Linked DNA regions of Homo sapiens. The protein of the gene in region 1 purifies or fractionates together with the protein of each later gene. This does not show direct contact. Each region holds a gene or a part of one and is shown in the gene's direction. Other genes may lie near its edges.

Region 1 (3,656 bases):
CCACCCTCCTTTTCTTTGTTCTCCATGGGTCCAGCTGTCTGCCTAGTCAGTCCTGATGTGAGAACGTGGATATTTTAGTTGAAGGTGCTGAATTCAGTTGCTATTTTCATTCTTCTCCATGACAGCTGCGGATCACAGCTGCTTCTAATCAGCCATCTCAGTCCCTATAGATTTCTATAAACTAAAATTTTTGAAAAATGTCACTATTTTTGACTTTATGGGTATTATACATTAGTTTGGTACTTAGAAATCACAAGTTAGTATATAAATGAAAAATTTGAGTTTGTTAGACTTTGTCTTTTTGATGGCATAATTTTTAATTGAAGCTTTATCTGATTATAAAAAGGCTGTTAAATTGCTTAGCAATTGTGGAACTCACCCTGAGGCTAGATGATTGTATATACTTATCAGGGGAACCCACCCCCAGTATTTCAACATAGGTTCTATTTTCCCTAAGTGTCGGCTGGTCTGAGAAATAAACAGAAAGAGTACAAAGAGAGGAATTTTACAGCTGGGCCGCCGGGGGTGATACCACATTATCGGTAGGTCCATAATGCCCCCTGAGCTACAAAACCAGCAAGTTTTTATTAGGGATTTCAAAAGGGGAGGGGGTGTACAAACAGGGAGTAGGTCACAAAGATCACATGCTTCAAAGGGCAATAAAGATCACAAGGCAAAGGGCAAAGTAAAGATCACAAGGCAAAGGGCAAAATTAGAATGACTGATGAGGGTCTGTGTTCGGCTGTGCACGTATTGTCTTGATAAACATCTTAAACAACAGAAAACAGGGTTCGAGAGCAGAGAACCGGTCTGACCTCAAATTTACCAGAGCGGGATCTTTTCCCCACCCTAATAAGCCAGAGGGTAATGCAGGAGAACAGGGCGTAATTTCAGTCCTTATCTCAACTGCATGAGACAGACACTTCCAGAGCAGCTGTTTATAGACGTCCCCCCAGGAATGCATTCCCTCCCCAGGGTATTAATTATTAATATTCCTTGCTGGGAAAATAATTCAGCGATATCTCTCCTGCTTTCACGTCCTTTTATAGGCTCTCTGCAAGAAGAAAAATATGGCTCTATTGTGCCTGACCCCGCAGGCAGTCAGACCTTTGGTTGTGTTCCCTTGTTCCTTAAAATTGCTGTTATTCTGTTCGTTTTCAAGGTGCTCTGATTTCATATTGTTCAAACACACATGTTTTACAGTCAATTTGTACAATAGTGGTCCTGAGGTGACCTACATTCTCAGCTTATGAAGATAACAGGATTAAGAGATTAAAGGCAGGCATAAGAAATTATAAGAGTATTAATTTTGGGAACTGATAAATGACCATGAAATCTTCACAATTTGTGTTCCTCTGCCATGGCTCCAGCCGGTCCCTCTGTTCGGGGTCCCTGACTTCCCACAACATATACTAATATTTTTGCTGCTTCTTATGTGCTGCCCCAGAGTGAGAGTCACTTTGCTTTTAGTCATTGTCAGTCCTGATGTGCACTTCCCTCTTGGATAATTTTTGTCCACAGAATTTTTTCTTTCCATGTAGAATGATTTCATTGGCCTTGAAAACTTGTTCTGGTTCTGTATCTTCTATAATATAGTCTATTTCAGCCCTATGGGAAAGTGATAAATTGATCTCACCTTATATTTTACAACAAAAGCCATTTAATATTCTCAAACTAATCTTCAGTCATGGAAAAGAAGAAGATCCATTCAGTAGTCACTGTGATTCAACAATTGGTATAAGTGCTTAACTTTCCCTTTATCACATCTCTGGTTAAAGTTTCATGTTCTCTGCCCATGTGTTCATCTCACAAATTAAATGTTGCTGTAGCTTTGACTAAGCTAGGTTGCAAGTTTCTTAAAAACAGGAGTCATAATACCAATTCCATGTATTCTGCAATGCTAAGTACAGTCTTCTGAGTGTTAAATAAATATTGTGCATTCAGATATAGAGATATAAAGACTTTATTTTAGTGATAGAAGGTAGTTTTAAATTTTATACATGATAGTAACACTAACTCTGTATCTGTAGTTTCAAGTATCTTGAAGGTGGTCACCTTTTTATTTTATGGGAATACCTGAGACTGGGTAATTAATAAAGAATAGAGGTTTATTTGGCTCATGGTTCTGTAGGCTGTGCAAGAAACATGGCATCAGGGTCTGCTTCTGGTGAGGACCTCAAGCTGCTTCCAGTCCTGCAGAAGGGGAAGGGGAGCTGGTATGTGCTGAGATCACATGGTGAAACTGAAAGCAAGAGAGAGATGGTAGGGAGGTGCCAGGCTCTTTTTAAACAACCAGCTCTTGAGGGAACTAACAACTCACTCACACTTCTCTCCCTTCCCCCAGGGCATTAATCTATTCATAAAGATATACGTCCATGACCCAACCACCTCCCACTAGGGGATCAAATTTCAACATGAGGTCTGGAGGGTTTGGTGTCCAAACTACAGGACTCCTTTAAGAGAGTGAAAGGATAAATCACAGAGTAAGAGAAAATGTCTAATATGTGTATCTTTCATTTTATAAATATATAAAGATTTCTTACATGTAATTGAGAAAACAATAACCCAGGAGGAAAATGAGCAAAAGACTTGAACTGGCTTTCAAAATGGAGGATATCCAAATGGACAATAGTTATAGGAATAGATGCTCAATTTCATAAGTACTCAGTAAAATTCAAATTAAAATTGTAATGAGATGCCAATGGAATGTCTCAGATTCAATTATAGAATTTCTGTTGTGTTCTTTTTTATAGTTTTTTATTTCTCTGCTAAGATTTTTTTTCTAATATTCACCAGGAGTACATTTTCCATTTTGTCCATTGGCGTAGCAACAATAGCTGCTTTAAAACCCTTGTGTGCTACTTCCAGTATCTTGGGTCATTTTGGGGTCAGTCATCATTAATTGTCCTTTTTCTTGAATATGAGTCATACTTTCCAGTTTGTTCTTGTCTAGTAATATTGGAGTGTGTTTTGGACATTGTACATGATATGATGTAGGAGCTGTGGATTCTGTTATATTCCTCTGAAGAGACCTTTAAAAGACTTTTTTTTTCTTAAATCAAGCAATTAACTTGACTGATCTGAAACTCTAAATTCTGTCTCCCTGTGGTGAGCAGCTGAATTGCCTGTCCAGTTTTTTTTTAAGCTTAACTGGGCTGCCTAGAAGATTCCAGTATGTATTCTATACATGCTATTCAGAGTCAGCCAGACATTTGGAGAGAGCTGATAGATTGGTTCCTCTCTTACTTGCTTCTTTCTGTGATTTCTCGGTATGCTTTCCAGATGCAGCATTCACCCCAAACACTGTGCTCTGGTTCTTTAAGCCAGGAAGACTGTAAATTTTCAGCATTTTTATTACCTTTTGAGGCACCAGCTGGGGCCTGCCATAAGGCTAAAACTTATGGAAAAAACAAAACCAAACTGGAAACTTATGAACTTATGTAGTATTTTTTCCTTTTTTCAAGTGTAGCACACCCTTCTCCCCTATTTTTGACTGCTTTTGGTCTGTCTATACTGCCTTTAGATAGCTGGGTTTTGTTTGTTTTGTTTTCGTTCAGAGTTTATAGTTACATGTGAAAGTGTTGGTTTGATAGTAGCTGCTTGACCATCACTGGAAGCAGAATTTAAGCTTTAAATTTAAATGAAGATACTTTGCT
Region 2 (3,656 bases), on another chromosome or scaffold:
CCATGATGTTCCACACACGTGGGGATATGTGGAGGCTGCCCTGTCACCAGGCACAGGTGGGGCATTTGCATGGCCCACATGGCCTGCATTTGCATATCAAAGGTTGCTGGCCTGGCTCTAAGAGCCAGGGCTTTACAAGAAACTTTTCCAGAGATGCTTTAAAAAATGAAAACTTCCCAAGGACCCCTTTTCCTCTCTATCTGCCTAAAATAATTTCGTAATAACTCCTACCACAGTTATCTAGAGAGTGAGCTAACTGTACCATAAGACGACTCAGACTTAGACTATATCAGTTTTTCCGCATGGGTGAGTCTTATGAATTTTGGTGGCATCTTAGGCTAAGAAGAGGTAGCAAGGAGAAATTGCACATAGGTGTTCAGATATAAATCACGTTGTAACATGTAATACAGTGGATAAATCCTAGTGCTGGAACTCTTTCAGACACTGAAAAACAAGGAACAAGACTGAGAAACAGAATTTGCCCTATTTTATCACATGTAAAGTGGGATTTTATTTTTGCTTTTACCATTCTGTAAATTAATGCCTAGGATTTGGGAAAGGCATGCAGCCCAGATTGCTTAGTGCAAATCCAGTTTGCTGTGATTAATGGCAGCTGTAGTGGAGTAGTACGGCCAAAGGCTTGTAAGAAAAATGAAGACTTGCTTTTTTTTTTTTTTATGCACAGCAATGCCAAGAGTGACAGAAATGGAAGATCATCATACTTCTTCCAGCCAAATTCAGGAAATGTCCATTAGAGGTTCAGCCTAAAAGTGCAAATTTGAACTTCGTTTCTTTTCTTTTTTTTTTTTTTTTGAGTCGGAGTCTTGCAGTTTCACCCAGGCGGGACTGCAGTGGCACTATCTCGGCTCACTGCAAGCTCCACCTCCTGGGTTCACGCCATTCTCCTGCCTCAGCCTCCCGAGTAGCTGGGACTACAGGCACCTGCCACCGCGCCCGGCTAAGTATTTTTAGTAGAGACGGGGTTTCACCGTGTTAGCCAGGATGGTCTTGATCTCCTGACCTCGTGATCTGCCCGCCTTGGCCTCCCAAAGTGCTGGGATTACAGGCGTGAGCCACCGCATCCGGCTTGAACTTTGTTTCTTAGACAGTCACCACCATATGTGGAACTGTTGCTTTACTTTGGAGTGCATTTTAATGTCCCCAAAAAAGAAGGTTTATAGTGACCAATCAGCTCAGTTTTGTCCTTACCTTGTTTGTTGCTCTGCAGCTATGTTCTAGGTGCTGGTTGGTGGGTTTTCCTACTAGAGTACTGATAGCAGGCTGGATAGAGTGAGATGTCCCCTCTGTCTTCAAGCTGACAGCTACTGGATTCCTGCCAAGGCATTTGCTTACCTTATCTTGCCTTCACAATATTTCTGTGGGTAGAGAGAGCTACCTATCCCCATTTTTAGCTTGAGAAAATGAAGCCCAAGGTTGCGCAGCTATTATAACGGTGGAGTTAATCCAGGTGTGTTTAAACCAGTCAATCAACTTCCTCTCCCTCCTTCCATTATGAAATAGTTCAGACATACAAAGTAGAGAACAATATAAGGAATATTCAACTATCACCATCCACTTTTTTTTTTTTTTTTTTTTTTTTTGAGACAGGGTCATCTTGCTCTGTTGCCCAGGCTGGAGTGCAGTGGTGCAATCATAGCTCACTGTAGCCTTGACATTCCCAGCACAAGCAATCCTCCCACTTCAGCCTCCCAAGTAGCTGGGACCAGAGGTGTGTGCCACCATGCCTGGCTAATTTCTTTTTAAATTTGTTTTAAATATAGGTAATATAGCGTCTCCCTAAATTCCAAATTCCAAAGTGTTGGGATTACAGGCATGAGCTACCACACCTGGCTCCCTAACCATCTTAAAAAAAAAAAAATGTAAATCCAACTGAAGCTTTCTGACAATGTTCTTTTGTTACATCATTTCCCTCTATCACAGAAAAGGTTATTCAGAAATCCTTAGGAAAGCCCTTAAGCTGGATAGAACTGCAATATTTTGATATATGCAAATACTCTGATAGATGGTGTGGAGAATACAGAGATGTGGTCCCCACCATCAAGGGACCAGAAACTTATTGCACAGTAAGTTGAATGTTGTGGAACTTTGATAGGTATTTCCTGAAAAGCTGACACATTTACGTTTGGCTGGTGCAGTTAACTTAGAATAAGTAAGTTTAAAGAAACCCTGAATTACATAAAGAAAGGGAAGATATTCCTTCTTTCTTAAAAATCCAGGCTGTTCTTCAATGGTATGGAAGAGAATAACAAGGTTATTAGTTGGGTTTTCCTTTTAATGTATTTTTAAGTGTTATTCAAAGACAGCCTAGTCTAGCCTCAGTCGTGATAGCAATCTGGCTCCTTACTGGTGATTGCTCCAAAGTAAATATGTGTGAAAATGAAAAATACCAAGTTGGTATTAACAGTTCACTTTCTAATATGAGAAATGTTTCAATGATAGAAATGCCTCGACAACAACAAAGTATTTTAAGAACCAGTTGATAACTTGGGATCCAATATAAGTAATTGTAGTGTCATTACCTGGAGGCCTGGATTTGGCCTTTGGTTCTGCAGGAATCATGAGGGAACTTCCAGCAGATGTCTGTTGCATCCATGAGCATTCAGAATACAGGTAGCTTTGGAGGCAAGGGGCAAGGTCAGTTTCTCTAACTGTACTACAAACACGGGTCAGTGCAGGCTGTTGGAGCCAAGGCTTTATGTCTTAGGTTTTACCGCCAGGCTTATGTTTCACTCTGGATTTCAACAATGGAGTGCCTGTCTCCAGGGAGGAGAATAAAAGATTTATGCAGCTACAAAAGGAAAGCTTGTAAACATGTCCTATTGTCGCAAGATACTGATCCTATATGGATGCCTTCACGGTAAGCCTGGTAACATTTGTGGACCCTTGGAATGACTTTGTTCCTGTCTGGTTAAGAGAAGTTGGCTTTTTGCAAATTCAGACTTACATTTTAGTGATAACAAGCCATACCAGTCAGGGGTGTGTGTGTGTGTGTGTGTGTGTGTGTGTGTGTGTGTGTGTGTGTGTGTTGTTTGTTTTAAGGAACAGGAGCTCCAATTCCAAATGACTTAAGAAGGGAATTTATTGGCTCATAACTGAGGCATGCAGGATAAGATAAGGCACAGTTGATTGGCCGTGACTGAGTCACATGCCCAGCCTTGGAGTTGGGGGTTGCTATGGTTTGAGTGTTTTTGTCCCCTCTGAGAATCATGTTAAAACTTAATTCCCAATGCAACAACGTTGGGAGTTGGGCCTAATGGGAGATGTTTAGGTCATGAGGGATCCACTCTCTTGAATGGATTAGTACCACCATAAAAAGGCCTGGTGGGAGCGGGTTCACCCTCCTCTGCTCTTCTGCCATGTAAGGTACAGTGTTCCTGGCCTCCAGAGGATGCTGCATTGGAGGCACCATTTTGCAGCAGAGATGGGGCCCTTAGCAGACACTAAACCTGCCATACCTTGATCTTGGACTTCCCAGCCTTCAAATATTTATATTCTCAGTCTGTTCTTTATAAATTACCTAGTCTCTGGTATACTGTTATAGCAACACGAAACAGACTAAGATAGGGGTAGAGTCAGTACCATCTAAAACCAGTGCTTTTCTTTTTTTTTTTTTTTTTTCTTTTGAGGCGGAGTCT

What was found.
Region 2: the proteins of AGPS (region 1) and CSRP2 fractionate together in Homo sapiens (co-fractionation; one large-scale study listed by BioGRID). This does not show direct contact.

Annotation. Positions count from the first base shown.
Region 1 is NC_000002.12:177,430,642-177,434,297, forward strand, and holds part of AGPS (alkyldihydroxyacetonephosphate synthase, peroxisomal precursor), read left to right. Parts: intron 1-3,656. UniProt on the Homo sapiens protein: Catalyzes the exchange of the acyl chain in acyl-dihydroxyacetonephosphate (acyl-DHAP) for a long chain fatty alcohol, yielding the first ether linked intermediate, i.e. alkyl-dihydroxyacetonephosphate (alkyl-DHAP), in the pathway of ether lipid biosynthesis.
Region 2 is NC_000012.12:76,868,921-76,872,576, reverse strand, and holds part of CSRP2 (cysteine and glycine-rich protein 2), read left to right. Parts: intron 1-2,725; exon of another isoform or gene 2,726-2,878; intron 2,879-3,656.